7 separate regions of the Homo sapiens genome follow, and all the other regions are reported to be linked to region 1. The links are microRNA targets in miRTarBase. Many come from high-throughput screens and were not tested one by one. Region 1 holds a microRNA gene; each other region holds the end of a gene's coding sequence.
The links. The annotated mature microRNA hsa-miR-4713-5p reads UUCUCCCACUACCAGGCUCCCA and lies in region 1 at 2,364-2,385, opposite strand. An mRNA with a match to its seed (bases 2 to 7 or 8) in the 3' UTR can be bound and repressed. Matches are read on the target gene's strand: a 7mer-m8 pairs with bases 2 to 8, a 7mer-A1 pairs with bases 2 to 7 and ends in A, and an 8mer does both.

Region 1 (4,077 bases):
CACTCTAGAAATTTAAAACCTCACCCTGTTAAAAATAGCTTGTCATCAACAAAGGAACCAGATGATAACAGACACAAGGCTGACTTTTTAGTTTCGACTTATATATATTAAAAAAAAAACAACCACAAAACTGCTCAACATAAGCACAATGTGCTTTCAGGAGAGAATCTCAAAGGACCTTTCCAGTGCATTTTCAGTGCCCTGCACCCAAGCATTAATGATTATTTAAATGGTAGAATAACATAAAATGATGAAACAACTGGATAAATTCAACTATGTTGTAAAAATTTTGTAGTTGACAGAAATCAGTCTTTGGACTTTAAGATCTCATATAGATCAGAGGAGAAATATAATGACATACTCCTTAAGAATCTGATGAAAGTTATGGCCTTTCTCCACTAGAATGTGCCGATTACAATATTTTATGCAGTGTTTCAAGGAATACACAGAGCCCCCAATATCCAGTTAGAAGCCCTGGCTGTGAATCTAGAATTTTATTACAGGTGAAACCCAGCACAAGTCTGATTGAGAGCCATTGCAAGTCACAGAAACTCTAGGCCCTGTCTAAGTAAAGGCAAACCTTGGAGTATGTCATCTGCCACTGAAAATGCATTTAATGATGACTCACTCTTTCCTCACTATACAAGTTTGTTCAACCTACACCTCTTCAGCTACAGACTACCTACCATCCCTGAAACTCTGTTCTGAGAGTAAAGGGATTACAAAACCTGGCTGAAAAGACAGATTCAATGGCATGTTGAAAAACACAGCAGAACCAGCACATCAGACTGTAAATTGATTGTCTTGCACAGGATGTTAGCTGCTCTTCGAATGAGGTTCCTGAGTGGCACCTGAGCCTATTGCTGGTGGCATCCTATTCTGCCTGTTCTCTCTTTCTTCCTCCTTCCCCATTCCTTTCATTCTCTTCTCCCTTATTCTTCCTCTGCAATTCTTTTTTTCCACACTACCGTTGGCCGGTCCCTAGGGATACTGTTTAATCTGGCCCATGGTACAAGAGATTTTAGATCTTCATTGAAGTCACTAGAGATGGCCTGAGTGAGTCACTTTGAATTCAATAGACAAACTGATGGAAGGCTCTGAGAAGACCTCAACGATGCCCAAGAAATGTGTTCTTACTGTAGAAACTTACTATTTTGATCAAAAAAGTCATTTTGGTCAAAAAGGGGAGTTGGGAGATTGCCTTTTTGTTTTGAAATTGATTTGGCTTCAAGGGAAGAAGATTGCCTAAACAAAACCTGCTGATGAAGTCACAAAATGACTCCACCTCTGGAATGAGCTTTATTTTCTTATAATTTGGCAAGAAATTTGGCTTTCAATTGGGAATGCACGTCACTCTACCCACTCAAGGGCAAGATGATAAGGTTCTATCAGACCAAGCGTCTAAAGGAACCTGAGACTCTACCAAGGTCAGAAATGCTGCAATTCAAGCCAAAAGATCTTTCTTGGGCTTCCTTGTTTTGACTTGTAACCATAAATTAGTCTTGCCTAAATGTCTGATCACATTATAAAACAGTAAGTGAATCTGTACTGTACAGCACCCTCTGAAGCAACAGGAGCTATAGATGAACCTTTTAGGGGATTCTGTAATTTTTCTGTCCCTTTGATTTCCACAGGACTCTAAATTGCCCCCTCTGAGGTCAAGGAACACAAGATGGTTTTGGAAATGCTGAACCCGATACATTATAACATCACCAGCATCGTGCCTGAAGCCATGCCTGCTGCCACCATGCCAGTCCTGCTCCTCACTGGCCTTTTTCTCTTGGTGTGGAATTATGAGGGCACATCCTCAATACCAGGTAAGTCAGTCATTTATTTCTGTATCTAAGGAGATTATTTACTTGGGATTTTGGTCCATGATGGTAAAGAAAATTTTGCAAAAGGACAAAAAGCAAACCTGGAAAGATCTCTGAAGACTATGTCTGTGTTAGCAAATGAGGACTTGGGAGAAAATTTTCAGACCAATTATCTGCACATTTTAAATGAAAGCACTTAAAAAATATCTTAGATAAACCCTTCCACTCTGTGCTGTGCTTTCGTAAAGTAGACTTGGCACAAGTACCCTTTAAAACAAGCTCAAGATGGGGTGGAGTAAAGTAAAATTCCAGGGTTTTCTGGTTAACTTTTAAAAAATAGATTGCAATTTTGCTCTGAAGGTGAAAATGTCTCTGGAACATCTTCTTCACTGCTTTTCTTCTCCCTTTCACTTTGTTTCCGCCATGCCCCCTCTTTGTCTTGTATTTATCCCTTCTCTTTATTCCACTCATCATTTTCTCTTATTCTTGGGAATGTGGTGATAGTGGTCCCCATTTTTCTCCCACTGTCTGGATCCCATTCGACCCTTATGGGAGCCTGGTAGTGGGAGAAAAATGGGGACCACTCCAGTGCTCTTGGAACATCATACCCCGGGAGAATCTTCAACAAGATCTGTGGTTCAATCAAAAGCAGAGAATAATATAATTATTCAGATAATCCCAATAGAAAACCCCACCCTTCCACCCTTAAAGCCGCAATGATCAGATATCAGATTAATTCAGAATGACTTGAAATTTCAGACTGCTTCTTTAGGTTTCAGTGAAAATGCTTCATTGCAGACACATCTGTTCCCAATTCCATAAGATATCCAATGAGACTTTAAGAGCATAGTTACACACTGGTAAGTGTGGTGGGCCTAGTCTCAGTGGGATCAGAAGTGGGAGCATGGGGCTAGCACAAAATGCTCTGTGTCTGGATTCTTTTTAACATTCCAGATAATTGCCTGTCTCTCTGCCTGATTCAGCCTGATATTTTAGATTACTTTAATGCCCAGTTTAAAGGAACATTTAGTTAATTTTGTTCTCTGCTCCCTGACAGGGTCAACTCTAGAGAAGGGAGGCTCAGAGCTAAGGGACAACTGTTTCATGGTCTTTAACTTGAACTCTGTTCCCCAGTGTGGCCCTTCCTCACTGGATTTCTCCTCTCCCAAGGGGGCTTCTAGGTCAGGGTCAGTGAATGGTCGGGGTGGGGTGAGTAAGTGGTGGGGGTGGAGAGCCTTTTTTTCCTCTTCTTCCCTTCATAGGCTCAGGTGCTAAATTCCAATTTGTCTGTGTTAGCAGACAATCAGGCCAGGAGAGTCCAGCATTGCCCACGCAGCATTGCCCATCCAGTGAGCCACAGGTTCTCAAGCTTTTAAGTCTATGTAAGAACACCCAGCAGGTAGGAGCTTGTTAACATTTCTGTTCCTGGACCCTGCTCCTGACTTTTTGACTCAGACTCTTCAGGCCTAGAAACATGCATTTTTAAAAAGTCCCCGCAGATGCTTATGTTAATCAGCACTGGTGGAATTTCCTTGGACCCTTGACCAAGGAGGTCAGCCTGTTAGGACAAGCCTGAGAACCAGCAGCCCTGAAGCTCTGGATCAGTGGGAGAGTAGGCAGCACCTCACTCTGTCCACCATTTCTGGGCCAGGGCCATCATGCTGATCCACTGACAGTCAGATCAAGTAGCACAGTGATTCTCAGCACTGTCTGAGGTAGGAGCTCAGCTAGTTTGGGGTTGCTATTTTTAAAAAAATCTCCCTTCCTGATTTTTTATGAGCAGCCAAGGTTGAGAGCCACAAATATGAGCCTAACTCCTTCATTTGACAGAAGGGGAAACTGAGACCCAGGGAGTTGATCTGCCTTGCCCAGACAAAACACTATGACAAGCATGAGAAGCCATGGAGTTCAAACTTGTCGTTTTACAAGTGAATGGTTAAAGCCCAGTGAAGGGAAATGGCTTGTCATCTCCCCAGCTGGACAGAAAGTGGGAATGTAGGGGGACCACCAGGAAGTCCTAAAGCCCAGGTTGATGATCATTTTGCTAGACAGGTAGTTTCTAGTTTCACACTTTCCTTTTGAAAACAGAAGGTCTAGTTAGAATCCACTAGTAGCACAGACTGTGAGATCCTATGGTTTCTGGTTGGGGGAGGGAAGATAAGAAAATTGGCCTTGTTTGGGGTGGCTTTTGCTGATCAATACTCCTGAGCTCCTGCCAGCTCCCTTTAATCAGTGGCTCTCTAGGTTCTTGGTTTTAGAGGTT
Region 2 (4,077 bases), not on the chromosome of region 1:
CTTTATTTCCCTTCTCTGGGCCAATGGGTGCCCCATTTCACATGTCTTCTCTCTCCAAAGACAAGTCTTCATACCATTTTTTTTTTCTTATTTTAATTTTGAGACGGAGTTTCACTCTTGTTGCCCAGGCTGGAGTGCAATGGCACGATCTTGGCTCACTGTAACCTCTGTCTCCCGGGTTTAAGCGATTCTCCTGCCTCAGCCTCCCGAGTAGCTGGGATTACAGGCGCCTGCCACAACGCCCGGCTAATTTTTTGTATTTTTAGTAGAGGCGGGGTTTCGCCCTATTGGCCAGGCTGGTCTCGAACGCCTGACCTCAGGTGATCCACCCGCTTCGGCCTCCCAAAGTGCTGGGATTACAGGCGTGAGCCACCGTGCCCGCCCCATACCACTCTTTCTTGAACACTCTGACTGTCCCTGGCCCCTACTCAGGGACTAAACCTTACCCTTTCAAGGCTTGCTTTTATGCCCTGGCCATCCACAACTTCTCTAGCCTTGAAGCCTTCCCCTCAAGGAACTTGGTCTAGTGGGAGTCTGACTCTCACGGGTCATGAATGCGGCTAAAACAAAGTGCCCCACGAGCTCAAGAGAGGTACCATGAACTGACAGGGGCAGACTGACGCTCCCCAAACGGTCTGACGGTGACCCTTGTGGAGCTGTCTCGCAATCAGAAAAAGGAAGGGAGGCAAATTATTCCGAAATCAGACTATGAGCAAACCTGGAGGCTGGAAAGAAAGCAATCAGGGTGGCGGAGCCTTTGGGGGTGCAATGAAGGCCCGATTCATCAGGGGCTTTGAATTAAGTTTAACCCTGCTAGCGATCTAATAAAGGTTGGCATGATTTGACTTAATTTTTATTTTGTTTTATAAAAGTTGACTCTTCGTTTTTCATTGTCGCTACAGCACAAACTCCACAAAGAAGTAATTCCACCCGGTGACTTCCCCACTGGCACTAATATGGTGTCCTCCCTCTAAGGAGCCCGAGACACTTCCGCCCTTCTCAGAAGTGACTTCCGTCCAGCTCGGCATGGCGGCAGTCACTGCCGTCACTTAGTCGCCGATCAAGGCTTGGACTAAGGGCCCACGGTCACTCGAGTAGGACTTGGATCGGATGCTGAATAAAACTCACCGTGAAGCAAGTCCCACTGAACGAAAAGTTGGTCGTAGCATTTCTCAGGTAAAAGAATCGGCACGAGCAGCCGTTTAAGCGGTCCGTCCGCCTCGGCCGCCATATTGCAAAGCTAGCTTCCGCCAGTCTCTCCAGACCGCCATTGACTTTCGTTGCGCGTGCGCGCTGCGGACACTCCGCCTCCCGTTCTTTTCCCGCGGCGAAGCTGGCCCGCCCCGTGCCCCGCTCTTTCTGACGCTACCCACCCTCACTCTAGTGGCGTAAAATAAGTCTCAGTCAGGGACCACGTTTTGGACGCGCTGTTGGAATTGTAAAGCTTGCCGAAGCTGCACGCCTGCGCGGTTAGACCTCCCACGCCTTTGTTGACGCTTCCAGTTTGGAAGCCAGATTTACACCCCTGCCTTTCTCCGCTCCTCCTGCTGGGCGCCATCTTGTCTTCTCCTAGCACACTTTGTATTGTTCGAAGTTGAGAGAGAAGGAGCCGGAGTCTCCGAGGTGGCGTTGGGTGGGGGCGCTACTAGCTCCCGTTCTCTCAGCGTCTCTAGAGGGAAGGGCGCCGGTGGGAGCAGGAGAGTCTGCACCGGGCAGGCCTCCTTAGGTGCCGGGTTGCGCGCAGGGCCCTGTGCTTGTCTCGCCTCCGGTTGGCTCAGGCCTCGGAGCATGAGTGCGCCGGCAACTGCTGGGCCCGGGACAGTGAAGCAGAGGAGGAGGTGGGGGAGGCGAGCCCAGGTCGGGGAAGGGCAGCACCTGAATCACCCTTGGGGCCCAGACCCCCAAGAGTCTCCGGGGAGCCGAGGCCTGGCGAGGCAGTCCCGGGATTCGCCCCCTCCCCGCTGGCCCGAGGGCGCACCACGTGCTGGGCAGAGACTTCGGCGAGGCCGAGTGGACCCTGCAGCGCTGCTTGGGAAAGGGCACCTTGGACTACCTGGTGGGGGCGTTGTGCTTCGTTACCGACCGCCGGGACGCCAACCCACGGTGCCCACCCGTGCGTCATTCCGCTGTGGATCAGCCCTTTGGCGGCCCCCCTCCAAAGTCTACAAGGTCACACGGATGTCTGCAGGCAGAGGTGGGGCTGCTGGGGCCCTGCCAGGTGAGGGCTGCCCTTGTGGGGCAGTCTCTGGGCCTTGGAGGCCGGAAGCCTCCTGGGGCTCCTACGGCTGGGGGGTGCTGCTCATCCTGGCTCCCAGGGATTGCGCCGTAGCCAGCTGTAATGGGTGGGACTGGCGCTCACTGCTGGTGCAGGCTGTGGCCATCTGGGAGGTCCTTTCTGGAATCTGGACCTTGGCTGTCCTGAGAGTGACACTCCTCATCTCAAGTACTGGGGGCATGAAGTTAGGCTTGGCAGGTGGCCCCGTGTGGGGGGCATGCTGTTCCCAGGAGCCCCCAGTGGAGGTCAGAGTACCCACTGCTCCTTCTTGATTCAACCCCTTGTAGGTGGGATAGGAGCATGCCAGGTGCTGCGAGGGTTTAATCGGGCTCTTCTGCTGGCCTTGAATATGGTGGACAGGACAGGACATTCTCATTGCTCAGGAGCCACTGGCGCTGCCTTTGGGAATGAAGTTCCACAGCCCCCCACTCATTGCTTTGGCTGTCTGCTGCATTTGAAACTGTACGAGGGTCAGGAAGAAGGCTGCGGGGATGAATGGCTCTACCGGCTTGCCACGGATGGGGAACTGGAGCAGCCAGTGGCCCCAAGAGGAGGAAGGAAGGGAGGCACGGCAGACCCAACACCAGCTGTGCCAGGCTTTGGGGGGTGAACCCATGAGGCATCGTCACACACTGACATTTTCATCCCTCCTCAGCAGCTGCTTCCGGCTCCCTGAGACCCAGCCATGGAAGGCATAGAAAGGCATGTGACAAGAAACTCATGGCTTTTAATCCTGGCAGGACAAGGAAAACCCCGTCAAAGATTTGCATAAATTTTGCTGCTCTCCTGCTGGGGGGGGGGGGGGGGCAGTTCGTCACATTTAATAAAATTCTCTCCCTCCCTTCTCCCGACTGCATTATCTCATATTTATTTATTTGAGACAGTCTGGCTCTGTCGCCCAGGCTGGAGTGCAGTGGCGCGATCTTGGCTTAGTGGCGCGATGACGGCTCACTGCAACCTCCACCTCCTGGGTTCAAGCAGTTCTGCCTCAGCCTCCCAAGTAGCTGGGATTACAGGCCAGCTGGGATTACGCCGCCACACCTGGCTAATTGTATTTTTAGTAGAGACAGGGTTTCACCATGTTGGCCAGGCTGGTCTCAAACTCCTGACCTCCAGTGATCCACCTGCCTCAGCCTCCCAAAGTGCTGGGATTACAGGCATGAGCCGTCATGCCCGGCTTTCTTTTTGTTCTTCAAGAAAGGGAAGGAAAATAACATTGTCTTTGAGCCAGTTGCGTGTCGAGGAAATAAGGGTACCCCCCCACCACACCCCAACCCCCTCAGTGCCCTGGGGTTTGAAGCAAATGCTCAGAGGGCCTGGTAGGCGGATGGGCGTCTCCGGATGATGCAGAAAGCAATAAGCACCAGGGCGAGGAGGCCAAGAAGGATCAGGCCGATGATGAGAGGCAGCAAGATGGACCGGTCACTGGGGCAGGAGAAACCTGGCGGAAGGATAGGGCAGGTAGGTATTTGCAGTGACGTGCTGGTTGGGATAAAGGTGGGAGGAGGGAATGGGGGGATGCTGGGGAGTAGGAGATTGGTGAGGAGCTCACCGCAGTGACTCAGCAGTGATAAAAGGGGGAAACTGGCAGAGTCTTGTAGAGGATGGAAAGAAAGCTGCCCTGTAGCCATGACAAGCTGGGAGAGCGAGATTTGGGGGGTTAAGAAGAGAGATGAGTGGCTTATGGGCCTGGGGAAGGGGTTTTCAGTGCAGTGGGAGGATTCTAGGAGGGAAGGAGTAGGTAGGTCTTACTTTGCCCAAAGACCCCTGTGTGGGGCAGCTGAGCAGCCTGGAGCCTCAGG
Region 3 (4,077 bases), not on the chromosome of region 1:
GAGCCCTGAGTTTGTTTTCCAGCAACTAGACAGTCCCATCAAGGCGTGACGGGAGACAGTGACAGATCATCAGGCATTAGATTCTCATAAGGAGCATGCAACCTAGATCCCTTGCATGCGCAGTTCACAATAGGGTTTGCATTCCTACGAGCATCTAATGCCACCACTGATCTGACAGAAGGCAGAGCTCAGGTGGTAATGTGAGCAGTGGGGAGTGGCTGTACATACAGATGAAGCTTCGCTAGCTCACCCACCTTTCAACTCCTGCTGCGTGGCCTGGTTCCGAACAGGCCATGGACCGGTACCGGGGTTGCGGACCCCTTACTCTAGAGCTCATTCAACCTCCACAGCAAGTTAAAGGAACTTCATAATTACCTACTCCAAGTTTGCAGTAAATGTTGTGGCTGAAAACACAGCTTACAGAATCAGACTGATCCCACCTCAATTACCTAAGGGCTCTGTGACTCATTTGTCAGATGGGATAATAATGGACGGCTCCATATCATTCCCCACCCCCTTGTTACTCAGAGCAGCACCACTGGCAGCACCAGGGAGCCTGGGAGAAATGCAGACTCTCAGGCCCCACCCCAGCTCACTGAATCAGAAGCTGCATTTTAATAAGGTCTCCAGTGACTCCTGCATACATTTCTACTAGTAACTTCTAAAATATAGAAAGAGTGATGGAGTAAGTATATTAATGAAAGTGTATCTACCAGACCAATGGTCTCAAATTGGTAGCCCATGGACCAGATTTTCCTGGAGACTTGTTTGATTTGTCCAGGATTGTGTTTTTTTTTTTTTTTTTTTTTTTGAGACAGAGTCTTACTCTGTCACCCAGGCTGAAGTGTAATGGAACTATCTCGGCTCACAGCAGCCCCCCAGGTTCAAGAGATTCTCCCACCTCAGCCTCCCAAGTAGCTGGAATTACAGGTGCCTGCCACCATGTCCAGCTAATTTTTGTATTTTTAGTAGAGACAGGATTTCGCCATGTTGGCCAGGCTGGTCTCGAACTCCTGACCTCAGGTGATCCACCCGCCTCGGCCTCCCAAAGTGCTGGGATTACAGGTGCAAGCCACCGTGCCTGGTCTAGGATCGTGGTTTCGAAAAAAGCAGACTTGGCCAGGCATGGTGGCTCACACCTGTAATCCCAGCATTTTGGGAGGCCAAGGTGGGTGGATCATGAGGTCAGGAGATTGAGACCATCCTGGCTAACACGGTGAAACCCCATCTCTACTAAAAATACAAAAAATTAGCCGGGTGTGGTGGCGGGCACCTGTAGGCCCAGCTACTCCGGAGGCTGAGGCAGGAGAATGGTGTAAGTAAACCTGGGAGGCAGAGCTTGCAGTGAGCCAAGATCGCGCCACTGCACTCCAGCCTGGGCGAGAGAGCAAGACTCTGTCTCAAAAAAAAAAAAAAAAGAAAAAATCAGACTGGTACACAAGTCTCCAGTTCCCTATGTCCCCATCACTCCTCATCGCATAGCACTATGTCATTGTAGGCCCCTATGGGCATTTGAATGTGTACCCCTTTCTGGCCCATATCCTATAATGAGCTAACATTTGCATAGCATGGCTTAGGTTTCTAAATTTGAAACAAGGCACTGGAAAAAACATGGGCTTTGAAATCAGACGAATCTGAGTTCAAATCTTGATTCGGCTGTTATACTAGCTGTATTACCTTGGGCAAGTTACTCTCCTCTCTGATTCTCAGTTTCTTTTCTTTTCTTTTTTTATTTTTTTTTTAGACACAGTCTCGCTCTGTGGCCCAGGCTGGAGTGCAGTCGTGCGATCTCAGCTCACTGCAGCCTCTGCCTCCCAGGTTCAAGCGATTCTCCTGCCTCAGCCTCCCCAGTAGCTGGGATTACAGGGACGTGCCACCATGCCTGGCTAATTTTTGTATTTTTAGTAGAGATGGGGTTTTACCATGTTGGCCAGGCTGGTCAAGAACTCCTGATCTCAGGTTATCTGCCTGCCTCAGCCTCCCAAAGTGCTGGGATTACAGGCGTGAGCCACTGCACCTGGCCTGACCCTCAGTTTCTACATCTGTAAAATGGGGACGAAAACACACATTTGCAAGGCCACTGTATGGTTTAAAAATAATATGTGCAGGCTAGGGGCAGTGGCTCATGCCTGTAATCATGGCACTTTGGGAGACTGAGGCAGGAAGATTGCTTGAGGCTAGGAGGTCGAGACTAGCCCTAGTGACAGAGCGAGACCCTGTCGCTACTTAAAAAAAAAAAATAATAATAATATGTGGAAAACACCCAAGTGGAAGTATGAATGCACTAAATGAAAGTAATTAGTAGCACATCAGTGGTAGTTGCACAAGTCCAGTGAGGACCACGGCATTATGATTATCCTCATTTTATGATAAATTGAGGCTCTGAGAGGTCCAGAACCTTCCCCAAGGTTACACAGTGGGGGAGTGGGGACTCAAACCCATGTCCTCTAGCTCTAGATCTGCACTGTCCACTAGAATAATCTGTGAGGATACAAGTGTTCCATATCTGTGTTGCCCGTCACAGCAGCCACTAGCCACATGTGGCTACTGGGTCCTGAAAATGTGGGTGGCAAAATATACACCCAATTTTGAATACTTAATACAAAAAAGAGTACAAAATATCTAATGATGTTAATTATATGTTGAAATAACTTTTAGAAATTTGTGTTAAAATATATAGTGAAGATTAATCTCACCTTTTTTTTTTCTTTGGTGAGACAGGGTCTCACTGTCGCCCAGGCTGGAGTGCAGTGGCGTGATCTTTGCTCACTGTAGCCTCGACCTCATAGGCTCAAGTGATCCTCCCACCTCAGCTGGAACCACAGGTGATGGAACCCGGCTAATTTTTTGTATTTTTTGTAGAAACTGGGTTTCACCATGTTGCCCAGGCTGGTCTCAAGCTCCTGAGCTCAAGTGATCCACCTGCCTCAGCCTCCCAAAGTTCTGAGATTACAGGAGTGAGCCACAGTGCCCAGGCTTCTTTTTTGTAATGCAGCTACTAGAAACATTTTAATTACATATATGGCTCACGTGTTTCTATTGGACAGTGGGAATCTAGAACTTCTCCAGTAGAACAGCATCTGAGATAAGGAACTTAGTGTTTTTTAAAAAGTATTTACAACCCACTGCCCACCAGCAAGGAGCCCTCTGTGACATAAGAACAGTTGAAGAATGAACATACCCACCGGAAAGAGACCTCAGGGCCCTCCTCTGAGCTCCTTGACCCCTGAGGCCTAGAGAGTAGTGTGGCTGGCCCCAGTCTCACAGAAGTCAGCTGCACAGCTGGAACCAAGCCGTAGATTCCTCAGCCTGATTCGGCCACTTGTGCCACCATACAAAGGTACCCACTGGGATTTTAAAATCAGTGTTTTTACTTCAGCAAACGGAACCCTGGGATAACACCAGTTGGAGTCTGAGGCCTATGATCTTGAGAAGGCAGTATCCTTTGGGAGGGTCTGCATGGGGCCAAATCTTGAGCCACAGCCAGACACCTCAGGGCTGCATTAATTGGAGGGACGGCTCTTGTTATAGACGAGGAAGTCTGAGATGTCGTGCCATACATTGCTGTCCTCATAGAGGTAGGTCATGGAGGACTGCAGCGAGGGCTGCAGGGTGGATCGGTGATACTCAAAGAGCCACAGCACCAGCCCCCACACCACCGCAGTGAGCAGCGGGAACGGGTCCCACCTGGGTTCAGGGATGTAGCCCTTCTCTACAGCCAGGCGGCTCAGGGCAAACAGGACGCGTGACAACAGGTACATGTTGATCTGCAAAGAGGGAATGATGGGAATTACTGGTGATCAATAGTGATGTCCCTCTTTTGTTTTTGATATTAATAATTTGTTTCATTTCTCTTTTTTTCTTAGAGAGCCTGGCTAGGGGTTTATTTATTTTAATTATCTCTTCAAAGAATCAACTTTTGGTTTAGGTCCTTTTCTCTATTGATTTCCTGTTTGCAATTTCATTGATTTCTGTACTAATTTTTTTTTTTTTTTTCTGAGACAGAATCTGGCTCTGTCGGCTAGGCTAGAGAGAGTGGGCTTACTGGATCTCGGCTCACTGCAACCTCCACCTCCT
Region 4 (4,077 bases), not on the chromosome of region 1:
CTCAAAAAAAAAAAAAAAAAAAAAAAAAAAACAAATGAAGGAGACAGCCACCTGCGGGGCTATGGAAGTGCAGGGTTGACACCTGCATGCCCCTGCCAGCGAGTGCCTCCTTCGGTTCTGCACCCTAAGTGCCTCACTCACCTTAACCTAGTCCCAGACTTGCTGGCAACAATCCTGTAAGGTCAGTGTCGTCAACTTTCTTCTTTGCAGATGAGGAAGCAGAAGCTTTTAGAGGCTGAGTATCTTGCTTCATGGAGCAAGGATTTGATGCCAGGACATTGGGCTCTAAAGCCTTGGGCCTTGACTGACTGTACCAGACTCCAGTGTTGGTTGTTTTTGTCTCCCTTTCCAGGTGTCCAAGGCAGCTGCAGATTTGATGGCCTACTGTGAAGCACATGCCAAGGAAGACCCCCTCCTGACCCCTGTTCCGGCTTCAGAAAACCCGTTTAGGGAGAAGAAGTTTTTCTGTGCCATCCTTTAAGTCTTTGAGAGGGGCCTGAAGAGCCTCCGGGCTCCTGGGACATTGATGTAGAGTTTTTAGTGAAGTGGGCACCTTTCTAGTCCACGGCATTTGAAGAGAGCGAGGAGAACCATTCTGGAAACTCTAGGCTATGCATGTTTAAAGATCTGGTCCCCTTTATGAGAATGCAAGCCGATCCACATCCTGACTTAAGAGATCTGATTCTGACGAACTGCCTGGAGGAGGGGAATATATAAAAATAAAATTGGTGTCACTTCTTTTCTGCTATCCCCCAGCCCCCCCCCCAAAATCCTCATGTTTCTGCTTCATATTTTGAAAAATAACAATTAAAACAGACAGCTGTACTGAGGTAAGATATGTGTGACCTTCTTGGAATGAATATTGTCTTTAGAATACCCTTTGATAAGCTGAGCTGTCCCGTGTAGATGCAATTCGGTTTAATGGCATTGATGTATAGTCACTGTGCCTTTCTTTTTCTTTCTTCCTTCTCCTCTACCCCTCCTTCCACCCCTCCCCATTAGAGTAGTGTGGAGATAAGGCTGGACTGGTCTATCAGATTGAACTCCAAGAATGATCACACAAAATGTTTAGGGAGATGTTCCCCGTGGTGTATCCTCATGGTAACAACGACAAAAAATGCCGGTTGTCTGTGTTCTCTTTTCACTATTCCTAACATGTGTACATGATAGCTTTGATTCTGCAAGTAAAAGTAAATCCTGTGTTGTGACTGGTGCTTTCATATATTTGTGACAATTTTTGAGTAATATTGCATGAAAATGTCCCTATGTTACATCCATTCAGAAGTTTTGTTGTTTTACTCTAAAGCTGGGAAAGGAAATGAGAGGGAAAAGACCCCGGAGAGGGAAGAAAATCTCAGTATTTTGAAAATTGAGATTACTTCAGAGCCTTAGCCACACCTAAAATACCTCCTAGTTAATAGTGGTATAAATGCCTCTTCAATACGTTTTCCAGAATCCAAAGCATTTTGGTTTATCCAGGACCCAGGGCAGCACAGCTGTCACCAAGCAGGAGAGTTAAGGATTCACCATGAGCTGGGAAATGCTTTTGCCATGAGTATGAGCAAATTCCCTCTTTCCCTGAATCATGGACATTCTAGATTAAAAGAACATTTTTTTGTGCTCTTAACAAGAAAACCATGGCCCTCCTTTGTTCAAGTATCAGAAGAAATAAACCCACAGCTCCAGAGAAGGTGACCATTCTCAGAACTCCAGCTATTCACTCTCCAGGGAGAAGGACCTCAAATCGCCACTCTTTGGGCGGCAGGTGCGGTCCCCACGGCCGGCTCTACGAGGAAGAGTTCTGGCTCTTTTGTCCACTGAGATGGTCTTGGTTTTTCACTTAACAAATTTTTTAATGGAATCTTTGTTTTTGTTCTCCATCTTGTTTGTTAGAGTCTCTCGGCCTTTATTTACAAATTCCTTGCAACTAGAGCGCTCCTTCCCCAAGATATGGTAGTGAGAGTAATTTTTCATTGTAGCTGTAGTCTCCATCAGTAACAGCAGGCCCTGGAAGACTTGATCACCTTTTTCTGTGTCATTTTCAGTCAAAGAGGGCCTCTCTTACATCTTGTTTGCTTTCAAATCCCCAAATATCATCTCCATCTCCCAATTAATTTTATTGTCTCTTTCCTCTCTATTCGCTTTCTCCTGTTTTTTTTTTAAAAAAAAAGCATGAAAAAGGAAGAGAAAAAGTTTGATATGCCAAGGACAGATTTTGAAACAGACTTGGTAAATGTTTTCCTTAGCTCCTTCATGGGCATGCTGGTGAAAGAATAAATACATCCAATTAAAGCTCATGCTGGGGTCGGGGAGAAGAGGATACTGAAACATTTGTGAAATGTATGAATGCACTTCTGTAACCAGATACTTCTGTTCTTCTGTTCAAATTGTGGGGTTTTTGTTACAGTTAGGACGCCCATGAAGATTTAGGGGTGAAAAAAACAGCAGAGTATTTATTAAACTACAGCATTGTACAATTAGCTTAGTAACACTATGGAATAAGCTAAAACATATCACAGTTTTTACATGGGCCAAAACATGAATTGAGTATGTGGTCACATGAAAACACGGATGAATGAATAAAACACTCTTTGGTGGTGACTGAGGCATCATTAGAAGGCCCAGACGATTTCCACTATTCACAGCATTTCCTTTTCTCAGAAGGACTCTTTATATTTCCATGTAAATCTAGATCTTTGGAGCAATTAAGATGGAATTACAATTTCTAGGGAGCATTTTAAGGAAAATGTTTTGGCTTTTTCATAATTTTATGTCTTACAGTATGGAATTATAATACGAAAATCTTTATATGAGTTTTGGCTTCTTGGTATTTGTACTTATTCAGGGGAAAAAGTCTTTCGATTACTTATGCCTCTATAGAGCTTAATTTCTTGAGAAATTCAACAGTCATTTTCACCAGCATAATTTTATCTTAAGGAATAACTAATAGGAAAAGTCAGCTTAATTATTTAAGGCCCTAGTTTCTACATATAATATATTCGATAGAAATGAAAATCTGCCGTGGAATTAACTAATAAGTAGTAACAATAAACTTCATATTTAGAATGCAAAGTCTATAAAGAATAATTTTACATGATCCTCAATATCAACTCCAGTTTAAAAAGTGTTATTTTTAAAACATTTGAAACCAAGTACTGTTTAATTTCAATCAGAAGATGCAAATACATACTTTGATCTATGTTTGATTTTGCTAATAATATTTGAAGGAGATTGCCTACCAAGGACAAAACAATAAATTTAAAAATCAAACGATTTCTCCATACGCTCATAGTCACATATGGAATTTTGAGAAAATAAAGCATGCTGTCTTTAGGAATTTTTATACTTCTTTGTCTTTCTTCCTTAATATTTGCTTCTAGCTGCTCTTGGCAATGATGAATTGTTATGTATGCATTAATGTTTTGCAGCCCAAAAGTTGTTCACATTTTTCCTATATAAGATCTGTGGAGTGTGTGTTTCAAAGAGAGAACTACAGAAATGTTAAAGCAGGAAAACCTGAATGTGATGTGCACATTTTCATCCCACATGGACAATGTATGTGTTTTAATAAATGGAATTTTCAGATTCATTTCATATGCAGTCAATTTCATTGTGACGGCCACTGATTCTGTGGTCAATTTGAGAAGGATCTGATGGTATGAATGGATGAGGAAATAGGAATCCATTGATTTTCTTTAGGATTTTGTTAATAGAGATGTCCGAAAGAAGAAAAAACTCACTTGACACTCTAAAAGCATTTCTTACTAGGTCTGTACATCTTGGGTACAGCCTTTGGGGACAGAGAAAGGTGGGGGCTGTGAGGAGAGCCCAGGGCTCTGATAGGGTGGAGTATGCAGACAGAGGAGCTGTATTTACACTTTCACTTGCTGCAGGTATGCCACAGTGGGCTTTTTCCCTTATGAAAAATAAAGACTGAACAACAGAAGTGCTGTTCTCTGTAGCTATCTGTGATTTAAAAGGAGTACAGGAGAAGCTAAGTCCTTAGAACTCTAGATGCAGCTGCTCCTTGGAGATCTTCTTAGTCGAGAAAGACTTCTGAATGTTCCTCAGATTATG
Region 5 (4,077 bases), not on the chromosome of region 1:
TGGGAAAATCATGTTACTTCACACTGAGAAAGCTTCATTGGGAAACCAGAAGTGGCAGCAGGAAGTCTCCATTGGTGGAGACTTTATGTTGTTTTTCAAAGAGAAGGTCTCTTGGTCAATGCCCAGATCTTATTGTGGTACCATACTTGAGTTATGTGATGAGAGTGACCAAGGGTATGTAAATTATGTGTCCCATCCACTCTTAGTTTCTTTCTTTTTATTTGAGGCAGGGTCTCAATCTGTCTCCTAGGCTGGAGTGCAGAGGTGCAGCCTCTACCTCCCAGGCTCAAACAATCTTCCCACCTCAGCCCCTGCAAGTAGCTAGGACTACAGGTGCACACCACCAAGCCCAGCTACTTTTTGTATTTTTTGTAGAGATGGGGTTTCACCATGTTGCACAGGAGTCTCGAACTCCTGGGCTCAAGCAATCCTCCTGCCTCAGCCTCCCAAAGTGCCGGTATTACAGGCACGAGCCACCATGCCTGGCCCACCCATAGTTTCTTCGTATGGGAATGTTGAGTGATTACAAGGGATAGGAGGAAAGAAGTTGAGAAGTAAAAGATTAGGAAGGACTACTAAAGTAGGTGTTCAGGAAGAGACTCTTCTTTCTGTAACTTCTGAGAATCGAGCTCTGTTGTTTTGTCGTTTGTTATAAAGCATTAGAGTGCAGGGGTGGCATTTGGCAGGATCAACCTGGTATAGGGAAGTGGGCAGCACTGATCGTGGTGGTACAGCTCTCCCTTGAAATCTGGACCCAAGCTAATGTTGTGCAGCTGGCTTTGGGCAGGGCCTAACACTGTTCACTGCATGTTTTGTCTGAAAGGAAGGAATCTCTTCTATTTTTCTTCCTATCTAGCATTGATGTTTATGATCGTTCTTTTAAAATCCGTATTTTCCACTCTTCATAAAAATGCCACAGGGCTGCCTGACAAATTTGCATTAAGGAATTTTGACATAATTAGCACCTGGCTTTAGTTGTAAATTATAGTCAGATAAATATATAAAGAGAAGGAGCATTTAAGCAATCTTTGGCCAGCAACTGTATTTAAAAATATTTTATTTTTTTTGAATAGGTGATACATATGGTACAAAATTCAAAAAAATACAAAAGGAGATACAGTGAAAAGTCTCCCAATCCTGTACCTATCCACCCTGTCACCCTCCCCACAAACCACCATTGGTTCTAAGAATTTATCCTGCAGATGTAATCCCATAAATTAATGTGAAATATGCACAAGAATATTCATTACAGCATTATTTATAGCAAAAGACAGGAAACAATGGAAACGTCTGTCAGTGAGGGACTGATTAAATAAATTATGGTTTATCCATTCAATGGAATAGTATACAGCTGTAAAATGAAATGAGGCAGCTCTAATTGCAAGTATAAAAAAAAAGCAAAGTGCAGAACAGCATGCATAGTATGCTATTTGTATTTTAAACAAAGGAAATATGTATATATGCATACAATATCTCAAGGTTGGCAGGAAGGTGGAGATTGGAGTGTTGTGGGGGCAGTGGGAACAGCAGTTACGAAGGTGTAGTGCCAGCAGGATATATTTGGGGGATGGTAAGTTCTCCGATGGTGAGGTATAAGGCGGAGTGGCAAGGATGAGGTGAACAGACAACCGCTTCTCTTTCCCCATTCTTTAGACAAATAGTGTTATGTTACATGCTGTTATGCAACCCTCCCTTTTCCCCTTAATTTGTTTTGGATATCTTTCTTAAGGAATTTAGAGCCACCTTTTTTAAGGGTTCCATAGCAATTAATTGTTTCTAATCTTTAGCTATTACAAATGATGCAGTAATAACTTCTTACGTATGTCATTTTATATCTGGTGAAAATATATCTGAAGGTTAAGTTCCTAGAAGTGGAAACTACTGGATCAAAGAGTTAGTGCTTTTATAATTTTGAAGGACATTGCCATATTGTCCTCTTCAATATGTACTTCTGTCAGCTGTTATGAGAGTACCTATTTCCCACATGCTTGCCAGCTAGGAGTCTTAACAAGCTTTTTGATCTTTGCCAATCTGACAGTTTTAAAAAGGATCTCAGTATGGTTTTAAGTTGCATTTCTTTTATTATGAGTGAAAGAATATTTTTACATGCGTAAGAGTGACTTATTTTTGTCTGCTGAAAACATCTCAATTAGTATAGGGACCTAGAGCAAATTATTTAAGCTTTCTATGTCTCAGTTTCCTCACCTGTAAATTGAGAATAAACAATAGTAAGTAGGATTATTGGATAATTAAATGAAATGTATGTATGGCACTCAGCACAGTGCCTGGCACATGGCAAGCATTCAATAAGTTATGTGATGGCTAACAATCAGAGGAGCAGGTAGGACAGGGCAGATTAAATTAAGAAAGTAGCATTCACTTCCATGCTCCAGTCACATGGAGCCTTGTTCATTTACATTGCCATTCATCAGAGAAGTACGAAGTCAGAGCTTTCCTTGTCTTTTAATAGTAAAGAGTCATTTCCCATTGGAACCCATCATAGGCTATCAGCAGAGCTGGCCAGGGAGTAGGCACAGCCTCATCTCTAATATTTAGACTTAGCCAACATGGTAAAGAAATTTAATCTGATATGAAATAAAAACAACAGAAGAGACCAGATGCACATTTCTTTATTCCACCATGGTTCTGAACTCCCAGCTAGTTTGGGTTGGAGTGAGTCTCTGCTTGTAAACTCAGAGGAATGCCTGCCATCGTTTTCTGAAGGGAAAGGGCAGGGGTTTCTGAGTGGAGGGGAAAAACAACATTGGAAATCTGGCTGCTTCTGAACAAGACCACACTGGAAAATAGACTTTTTACTTTTAGCACATCAAACTGGTTTTCACAAAAGGAGATCCCAGAAGAGGTTTGTTTCCTGTAAGAAGCAGTGTTTATGTAATAGAGGTCTTTGTAGATGGGTGCTGTATCCCATGGCAGCCCTTGCTGCTGGTGCCCACAGGCTATCACTGGGCGGATTCAGCTACTGAATATTTTCTTTAGACGTATAAAGCCTTGGCTCCCCTTTCTCATCAACTCCACGTATTTTTCATCATGTCCTCTTGCTGCTTTCTCAGGCTCTTTGTTCTTCTTCATTTGTGTCTCTTACATTCAACAAGCTAATATCAGCCTTGCTTCTCTGAGTGAAGGGATCTTCTGCCACTCCTTGGGGTCAGAGAATGGGCTACAGGATGGAGGTGTGGCAAAATCAGGGCCCAGAACAGATTGGCTGAGTGGTGGTGATGGTTCTTAGGAGGGGGCTCTGGAGTCAGTCCCCAAGCTTCCCCAAATCCTTTCTTGCTCCACAGATTCTGAAGGACCTCCCTAGGGCAGATGTAGCCTCTGTCCCAGTTGTGGGATCGTCAGGATGATGGTGGATTGTGGCTGGAAAGGGGTGTCTGCAGTGTGAGGCCATGGGGCCTTGCATGCTCGCACAGCTTGGGAGGGTGGATGAGGGCCATCCTTTGGTAAGCATCCCATAGCAAGGCCAGGAAAGGTGGTGGACAGGGCCTCATGCGGTGGCTGAAGCATTAAAGCGATTGGTGGTGCTTGAGCCAAGCAAGGGCATGGAGGCAATGACCGAAGCTTACAGCCAGAGGCTAAGCTGGGAGAGATGAAAGCAGGCAAGGCTGATTGGAAACCTCTGGCCTGATGTCACGGTGTCTTCCCAGCTAGGAAATCATCCTCAAGGCCCCTGCCTGTGACTGGAGGCCATTTCCAGGTAGTTGCCACACTGACCCCTGACTGCTACTCCTTGGCAGTGCAGTGGGGGGGCCCTGCCTCAGCCACATATCCCGGGGAGCAGTGGCAGCGGTAGGAGCCCTCTGTGTTCTCGCAGTAACCATGGACACAGAGCACAGCAGGCCCGTTCAAGTCATCACACTCATTCACATCTAAGAGGAAACAAAGGAGAGTGCTGTAGGGAGCCCAGGTGCCTCTGCTGGCTGCCTCCACCTCTCTGGTTAGTAAGCCCTGGCCACTGCCCTAGAGTGAAACCCTAAGTGTGACAGCCAGAGGCTGAAGTCACTTCCCAAAACCAAGCAACTCAAGGACAAAGCAGGGGGCAGCAAGCTCATACCATGC
Region 6 (4,000 bases), not on the chromosome of region 1:
CTCCACCTCCCGGGTTCAAGCGATTCTCCTGCCTCAGCCTCCCGAGTAGCTGGGACTACAGGCATCCGCCACCGTGCCCAGCTAATTTTTTGTATTTTTAGTAGAGACGAGGTTTCACTGTGTCAGCCAGGATCGTCTCGATCTCCTGACCTCGTGATCCACCCGCCTTGGCCTCCCAAAGTGCTGGGATGACAGGCGTGAGCCACCGCACCCAGCCCATTGAGCATTTCTTATTCATGTATTACTTCATAAACTTGTGCCCTTTTCAGGCACACTTTAAAAAGTACTCAACAACCTATCATCAAACTATCCTTAGGGTCAGAATGAAGTGCCTCTGACAGGGACTCACTATACAATCCATGCATATTATGACAAGCCTCCAGTATACACACACTGGTACAAAGGATTTTATAATGAGGTTTATTATCAAATTCTAGAAAAGTGAAAGTACAAGAAAATGCTTCTAGTTCAGGCGGCAGGTCTCCAGTAGTTCAGTCAGTAGGTAGAGAAAGACAGTTTTCTCATAGTTACAGAGTAGAAAAACTATTGATGCTATCAAGTGCGTCAGGTACCATGTTCTGAATTCCTTTGGCCACAGATAAATTAATAAAGGCTTAGGATTCTGGGAAACCATTATATAAGACCCAAGTAAAGTAACCTCCCTCCATTCTTTAGAATTTGAAGCCTTCTGGAAAAAGCCAAAGTGTAGAACAAACTCCCCAGCCACCTACAGAAATCTCACTAACATCTTCAAACTGGAAATTTACCTAGACCATTTCTAAGGTGTAATGCATTTAAGGTTTCCCAAAAATAAAATACAGAGCAGGGTAGGCGTATCACTGTCATAAGTTATGTTTGGAAAGTGTAAATGAGGATGCTGTAACAGCCTTATTTGGAGGGTTGGAAAGTTGTGTGTGGCTGGCATTTTGGAAATTGGAGAGAAACTCTTCTAATTTTTCTAGGCTATGTAAGCCCCCCTACGATAGCCATATGTTCTCTTAGCCCAAGCAACATCATTTGACCTCAGCACTCAACTTCCACATTGATGCTCAATAGTTCCTGAATTTTAAAACTCAAATATAAAGACATTTTTAGATTACTACTCACCTTCCTCAGGACAAGCTCTTCTCTTAAGAGACTGTACATCCAGTGTTCTTAATAGGATAATTCATTGTAACAAGAAATGCTAACTGTTCTCTCTGCGGCTTCTCCCTAGATCTGCACAAGGGAATGAACAACATGGCCTTTCCCTGTCTTACCATTTCCCAGAGTTGTAGCCAGCCAAATAGTTTAGTGACCCTGTTGTTCCCTACCATCGCCCCTGGGTGGGATCATTTAAACAAAGCCTAAGCTGAGGGAACACTTGAGGTCTTTTTTTTTTTTTTAAGCCCAGTGGAAAAACAAACATACATTTACAATGACTTAGAACTTTCAAGTTCTTTTATTATAAAAGTCTGTACAATGAAGTGCCAGACACAGCAATGCCATTATACTGGTGGACATATATATCTATATATTATTTGTATATAGATATACAGTTTTTATTTGTACCAAAGTAAAACTATCACCAACTGCCTAATTCTACCAGCTACTGCTCAACTATGACACACAATACTGTCACAGAGCATAAGTGCTGCCATGCCACTTTTACATATTCTACTCACAGCCAAACATTAACATTGAATAACATATTGAAGCAGCTGTTAATTCTAAAATGAAACCAGTCAGACCACTGACTTATAAAAATATGGTACTCATATAGATTTAGCATTATAAAGAAGGAATATATTATTTAAAACATTTAAATAGTGCATATGGACATTTTTGCATGTGGTATATAAAATAAAACATTCATATAAGATACACAGTGCACATAAAATTAGATGTTTGGATACACTCCTATCTGGAGACTGAAGGAAATTATCTGAAATGTACACTGCATGATGGATTCAAATAAAAATGATACATCTTTTGGTATTTTCAATTTCACTTTTCTAGGTATACATTATGAATAACCTAGTTGTATCAAAAGGAAACCACACAAAAAGGGCAGGATTTAGTGCTTTTCTTTATTCCCCAACTACACATTCACTACCAGGTTTTCCCTCACCCCCCACCCCCCAGAAAAAGGCATTGCACACACGGGTGAAATGTGAAGTACTAGAACTGCTATTTATTATCAAACTACTTCATGTGCTTACTATGTAATAGTGCCAGAAGTCTGAGGTTCATGCTTCCCTCACCTTATTAAAGGATGTTGCAAAATTCCATTTTTATATGGAATAAATTGTTAATATTAGCTAGTTAAGAAAACCATGCATGAGTCATTGCATGCAAAACATGGGTATAGTCAAAGTGAGACAGTCATCAATCCAAAAAAGCACCAGAAAAAAAAGTTAACACTTAGATTAAGCCTGACCCAAATCTGCTGTTGTACTGTTAGCACAAATGAAGTCACCATTCTGTAACAATGATTAGCAGAATGATACCGAGACAGTACCTGAAGAAAAGCCATGCAAAGCCAAAGGAAAAAAAGATATGCTAAGAGTATATGACAAGGGGCATACCACTACACATCCTGTAAACAGCTGCTTTAAACAGCATGTTATGATTGACCAAAGGGTGGTCCCTTAAGAGGGCGTTGTTGTCGTTGTTTTGGTATGGATTTTGCTGATTAAAATAGGAGGGGAAAAAAAAAAAGATAACCCCCTGAAGGTACATGTGAAAATGCAGTGGTAGAGCCCTTGTTAAGAACAGATTTACTTTAGGCATAATATTTTGCTGATTTAAGCCCATTGATTGAACACACAAATCTGAGCACCATCAGAGTTCCTACATACTGACATGGCTATTTTCTCACATTATCTGGAGGTGGGTTGGGGAATAGCGCGGATCTGATCCAGACAAATCACACCATTGCCAGCGGATAAACAGTAACTCAGGAAACAGTAACTGAAGTCCCATAGGCAGCATGTGGTATGATTCAGTTCTGTGTGTGATGTGTGGTGTGTGTTTTCAATATACTAAGCGAGGTCACCTTTTGGTCTACCAACTGTTATCTTCATCCGGGAGCTGTGTGACCAGCGAATTGCAAAATTTTACTAACATACTACCTGTGAGAAGATGTCACTTTGGGAATTAAACAGAAAGGTGTTCCATAGTACGACTTGAAATCTCAGTTTGATTTTGGTTTTCTAGGAAAACAGAGAACACAGTTGCGTATGTGCACTTTTATAGGCTTTTCTTTCAAATTTTCAGTCATTCTGTAAGAAAAAGGCAACAGAAGAATTCAGTATGAAGATTTTCCTCCAATTTTCTTCAGTAATGAGAAACAAAAAGTTGGTAATAACAAAAAGCTTGCATTTCCAAAGTTCTTGAAGTTGAAAGGATAAAATTCCAGTCTTTTGCTAAAAGGATGTATCTGTAGTACAAAACAATGAAGTAAACCATATGTTTGCTAAAGGTGGAGAGGACAGTCTGTGGTTAATATGGAACATCACTTACGCTCCCTTGAGAGGGCCTACTTACTCTCCCATCATTTGTTTTGTTTAGTGGCACCACAACCAAGTACAAAATGAGATTCTCTGAGTGCCTGACAAAACGAATTTAAGTACCAGCCAAGTACACACGATGATAGCTTCAAGGAATACAACTGACTTTATGATATGAATTTTCAAGGAACGTATCTTATATGGATTTTGAAGAATCTTGTTTGCTTATAAGAACTTCAAGAAGCCTAAGCTTGGCTTTAATTTTCTTGTACTCTCTGTACTCCTCAAGCACTGGAACACGATCCTCTTTCTGGGCATTCCTAGGGGAGAAAATAAAATTTGTAATGTTCTAGAGATCATTTGGAAAAAAAGATCCAAAAGTTGTCTTAATATGAGACATACTGTTACTAAACATAAGTTCAAATAAAAAGTTGTTCTGTTAAAAAAAAAAAAAAAGGTTATTGAACTAATACCCTCATCCCCAAGGAACACTTCTAAAATTTTTGATG
Region 7 (4,077 bases), not on the chromosome of region 1:
GAAAGTCTTTTCCAAAAACGTCTCTAAATGCGTCACACCAGATGGCAGGACCATATGTGTAGGGGACATTGTTTGGGCCAAGATATATGGCTTCCCTTGGTGGCCAGCCCGTATTCTTACTATAACTGTGAGCCGGAAAGATAACGGCCTTTTAGTCCGACAGGAGGCCCGTATTTCATGGTTTGGGTCTCCAACAACATCTTTCCTTGCTCTTTCACAACTCTCCCCCTTTTTAGAAAACTTCCAGTCACGCTTTAATAAGAAGAGAAAGGGCCTGTATCGCAAGGCTATCACAGAGGCAGCTAAGGCTGCCAAGCAGCTGACCCCCGAAGTGCGGGCTTTGTTGACACAGTTTGAAACGTGAACATGGGCAGTAAGGTAGGCAAGACCATTGGAAGTCACCACAGATTTTCTAGTCTAGTTAGGAATAATTTCTACAAAATAGCGTGGCCAGATTGGAGAGAGAAGTTGCACTCAGTTGGCTGGCTTTTTAATACTTACCTTATAGCCATTTTTAGACTGAGAGCTTAAACTGAACATATAATCAAATTTTGTGTTAAGGAAGTGAGATTTTAGCAGTATTTTTCAGTTTTGAAGTTCGAAACCATCCCAAGGCATAGGAGCCATAGCCTCAACTGAAATTGAATTTTTGTAGGGACTGTTAATTGCCATTTGTACCTAATACTGTATATATACATATATATACGTGTGTGTGTGTGTATATATATATATCCGTGTATGTATATATACACACATATATATGTATATATACACATATATATATATGAAATACAGCCTGTCACTGTGTGACACAGATTGCATATTTGGGATTGCAATAAGGGCTTGGTGAGCTGGGGGAATAGTGGATATTTAATGACTACTTGTTTTTTAAATAATGAACACTTAGCCTTTCTATGCGCATAATGGTGTAAAAGTTAGATGGTTAGGTGTTTGACAAACAGATGGTTGCAATTCAGTTACAGACTGGGGAAATAGCCCAGTGTTTGGGATTAAAACTGTCAAGACTGGATAGGTGTTAGTCATCACTGTCTTTCGTCCAGTGGGGATTTAATAAATACTTTCAAGCTTCTGGTTTGGGAGTTTAGATAGGTTTGATTTTGGATTTGTAAATAGTGATTGCTAAATTTGGTCAGATTTCTCCTGACTGGCTGTTCCTAAATTCTTAGGATATGTCCCAGTAAAATTATACTTTGTGAATTAATTGTCATATGTGTAATTGTTGCATTTTGGATGTACCTAATTTGATAATTAAAACAAAATAATTTCCGTTTAAGGTATCTGTTTGCAGGTCAGAAAATGAGAAAATGTAATTGTGTAATGCTCTGAAATGTAAAAAAAAAAAAAAAAACCAAAAAAAAGCTGTAAATAAAATCAACTAAATCCAAATTATTTGTGTGTGTTTCTCAAAAAGCTTTGAAAAATTTCAAGATGGTAGAAAATTATTCTTTGTAAGAGTGTTTAGAAGAGATGAAAAATCAAACTTTTATTTTGCTATTTGCCCTATCAGGGAATATATTATCTGAGATAAGAAAACTTCAAATAATGAGAGATGAATCAGTATATTCTCAAAATAAGATTTTGTAGTATAGAGGTTTGATAATGCTTTTAGATTTGATATCCCCTTCCTGCCAATTTCTCATAAATGTGTGAATTTTAATTTTTAGTCTTAATATTTCATCACATGCTTCCTTTTTTTACATTCGGGTAATTACAACCGGTCTCTTCTGTTTGGTTTTCTGCCTCATGTATCACTGCTTTTGGGGCTAGTAACTTAGCTTACTATTTTTCTACATGGTCCATCTGTCCCTAAGATTTGATTTCTTATTTTCCATTTTTAGCTTTGTATTAGTAGTGAGAAATATATCTGATTGGCTGTGGAGGCAAGTTTATCTCAAGATTTTTAAAGTTGCTTTCATACTTTGTGTCTTAACTTTTGGATATCTAATTTCAATACTTTTAGAAATTTAAAATTTAGCAGTTTTTTGTGGATTTCTAAATCCAATTTGAAGTAGTTACTATGGAACTCATAATGAAAAGATTAATGGAGATTGAAAATCAATAGTCTTGTCAGCTTTCTTAAGGTTATTGACTGATTGCGAATTTTTGCAGAAGCAAGTAGAATTTCTTATGGGGAACTCACTCAATGCTTTTTGATTATAATAAACACACATTTTGAAAACATGTTTCACTTGAGTAGAACATATTCTTTCCTGCAAACAGAAACAACTATACTTAAAAAAAAAATTCTTTGAAATTCACAGTGTGGTTGAGAAGTTATAAGGAACTATCCTAAAAGATTTTCCAAGTATTTGTTTCAGATTAATGAACTTGTTCAATCAGGTGTTTTTAAAAGTTTGAAATCTAAAGTTCAGAAAGACTTAAAAGTCATCAAAATATGTAATTCCAAGGCTTTGTGTAATGATCTGGGTGAGTTTTAACAGTAGTTTGAAGTAGACATTACTGATATGGTCAAGTGCTTGGTAAATGTGCTGTTGTGGCATAAACCAAATTGGATTTGTTTCAGAAGCCATGGGGAAAGAGAAGAAAAAAAAAACATGATTGTTGAATATAAAAATAACAATCAGTTTTGTAGAACACACCTTTGAGGAAAAGGTTGAGCATATCACAAATGATATGCCAAATGACCCCTTCGTTTTAAACTGGCAGTCTGGCATATTTCATTTGCAGTTTCAGTAGGGAAGCAAGTTTTAAAGAATCTCTCTAATCTTAAATGTGTATTCTAAACTCTAATAGCTGAATATTAAAAACTTTTATTCCAATGGAAATGTCTTAGATAAATTTGTCCAGTATCTACTGCAGATGGAGATAGAGTTGAATTGGGTAGTTGTAGCCACTTTATATTTCTCTTTGAAATGATAAAAGGCACTTATTCTTGATATGGAGATAACAGAAGTGGGTATTTTTTCCCCTTGGAGTGGGAGTAAACTGGCTTAGACCAAATCTGCGGCTTAAGTAAGAGTCGTGGCTAAAACAAAGGATTGGCCAGGGGAGAAACCAAGTGAAGGAAGAGTTGTGAAAGCTAAGAATGTCTTTATTTCTGGAAATTCTCAGAAATGTAAAGCATCAGAGTATTTTTCCCTTTTTACTTTCTAGAATTTATAGACCAGGAAGCTGACTAATCATTTGGAAGGAACATCCATTCAACTCTCATTTACAGATGTGGAACCAAAGACCAAACAATTATCTGTGAGAGGCCAGGTGCGGTGGGTCATTCCCATATTCCTAGAAGTTTGGAAGGCCAAGGTGGGATGATTGCTTGAGGCCCGGAGTTCGAGACCACTCTGGGCAACATAGACCCCCGTCCCCGCTGCCATCTCTGCAGAAAAATAAAAACTTAGCTGGGCATGGTGGCGCACGCCTATAGTCCCAGCTATTCGCCTGTATCCTAGCTACTTGGGAGGCTAAGATGGCTTGAGGTCAGGAGTTGGAGGCTGCAGTGAGCTATGATCACACCACTGCACTCTGGTCTGGGCAAGAGTGAGACCCTGGCTCTGAAAAAAAACCCTATATATCAGTGTGATAGAGAAACTGGGATTCACTAGTCTGGAGCCTTTTTGCATAACGTGGTGGTGTGTCCCTAGATGGTTTTGATGGGGAAAAAAATCTGTAAATAGTAATTGTAGATTAGTACTAAGTTGAATAGGCAGGAATTTTGATGTGAAAACAGACTGGAGGCAAAGAACAGGGAACTGATACTAAAATCAACAAAATGAATATATCTTCACTAGTGAGCCTGAGTATCTAAATTGCAACATATTAAATTGAGTTACACTCCTATTTAAGCAGGTTGTACTTTTCTAAAAATTGCTTATGTTTAAAAGGTCACAAGTCTAGAATAACTGAATTGGGAATTGGAAATACCTTAAGTCTATAATTTGTATCTAAAATTAGGTTTTCCCTTTTAAGTTGTTAATTTTCTATGGTTTGTGCTGCATGCTTTCACTTTTATTAGTACTTACAGCCAAAGAGATGGGCAAATGTCTAGAAAAATTAATGTTTTGATTCAGGAATTTGTGCCTAGTGATGGCCTCCAAT

Region 2: miRTarBase lists CD68 as a target of hsa-miR-4713-5p. Seed matches in the 3' UTR shown: 7mer-A1 at 3,118-3,124.
Region 3: the mRNA of PXMP4 is a reported target of hsa-miR-4713-5p. Seed matches in the 3' UTR shown: 8mer at 893-900.
Region 4: the mRNA of GNG2 is a reported target of hsa-miR-4713-5p. Seed matches in the 3' UTR shown: 7mer-A1 at 1,728-1,734 and 7mer-A1 at 2,309-2,315.
Region 5: the mRNA of LTBP2 is a reported target of hsa-miR-4713-5p. Seed matches in the 3' UTR shown: 7mer-m8 at 1,128-1,134.
Region 6: miRTarBase lists FAM13B as a target of hsa-miR-4713-5p. Seed matches in the 3' UTR shown: 7mer-m8 at 3,529-3,535.
Region 7: miRTarBase lists PWWP2A as a target of hsa-miR-4713-5p. The part of its 3' UTR that is shown has no 7-base or 8-base seed match.

What each region holds. Positions count from the first base shown.
Region 1 is chr15:51,240,508-51,244,584 of GRCh38, reverse strand. It overlaps MIR4713 (microRNA 4713), which reads right to left and starts at 2,395; the gene lies at 2,321-2,395. CYP19A1 (cytochrome P450 family 19 subfamily A member 1) reads left to right here. Exons shown (of 10, transcript NM_000103.4): 2 at 1,635-1,817. The coding sequence starts at 1,673. The region is part of intron 1 of MIR4713HG (MIR4713 host gene); the gene reads right to left. RefSeq lists cis regulatory regions at 621-627, 1,286-1,307, promoters at 535-691, 1,305-1,334, 1,278-1,539, 680-1,657, 1,460-1,717 and silencers at 1,368-1,395, 1,423-1,452, 1,298-1,459.
Region 2 is chr17:7,581,017-7,585,093 of GRCh38, reverse strand. CD68 (CD68 molecule) reads right to left here. Exons shown (of 6, transcript NM_001251.3): 5 at 4,028-4,077; 6 at 2,983-3,716. The coding sequence ends at 3,583. MPDU1 (mannose-P-dolichol utilization defect 1) reads right to left here and starts at 1,242. Exons shown (of 7, transcript NM_004870.4): 1 at 1,129-1,242. The coding sequence starts at 1,231. MPDU1-AS1 (MPDU1 antisense RNA 1) reads left to right here and starts at 1,002. Exons shown (of 2, transcript NR_136402.2): 1 at 1,002-1,176; 2 at 2,931-3,120. RefSeq lists enhancers at 1-669, 904-1,433, 670-1,544, 1,544-1,593, 1,545-2,418.
Region 3 is chr20:33,704,203-33,708,279 of GRCh38, forward strand. It overlaps PXMP4 (peroxisomal membrane protein 4), which reads right to left. Exons shown (of 4, transcript NM_007238.5): 4 at 1-3,767. The coding sequence ends at 3,504. Among named protein-coding and RNA genes, the nearest start is that of PXMP4, 14 kb to the right of the region's middle.
Region 4 is chr14:51,966,207-51,970,283 of GRCh38, forward strand. It overlaps GNG2 (G protein subunit gamma 2), which reads left to right. Exons shown (of 4, transcript NM_053064.5): 4 at 353-3,589. The coding sequence ends at 481. Among named protein-coding and RNA genes, the nearest start is that of RTRAF, 21 kb to the right of the region's middle.
Region 5 is chr14:74,497,143-74,501,219 of GRCh38, forward strand. LTBP2 (latent transforming growth factor beta binding protein 2) reads right to left here. Exons shown (of 36, transcript NM_000428.3): 36 at 1,041-3,887. The coding sequence ends at 3,742. Among named protein-coding and RNA genes, the nearest start is that of ISCA2, 5.4 kb to the left of the region's middle. RefSeq lists an enhancer at 2,962-3,957 and a silencer at 3,644-3,938.
Region 6 is chr5:137,936,538-137,940,537 of GRCh38, forward strand. It overlaps FAM13B (family with sequence similarity 13 member B), which reads right to left. Exons shown (of 24, transcript NM_001385994.1): 24 at 1,423-3,811. The coding sequence ends at 3,688. All of the region lies in intron 14 of PKD2L2 (polycystin 2 like 2, transient receptor potential cation channel), which reads left to right. Among named protein-coding and RNA genes, the nearest start is that of PKD2L2, 49 kb to the left of the region's middle.
Region 7 is chr5:160,088,669-160,092,745 of GRCh38, reverse strand. It overlaps PWWP2A (PWWP domain containing 2A), which reads left to right. Exons shown (of 2, transcript NM_001130864.2): 2 at 1-1,407. The coding sequence ends at 364. Among named protein-coding and RNA genes, the nearest start is that of PWWP2A, 29 kb to the left of the region's middle.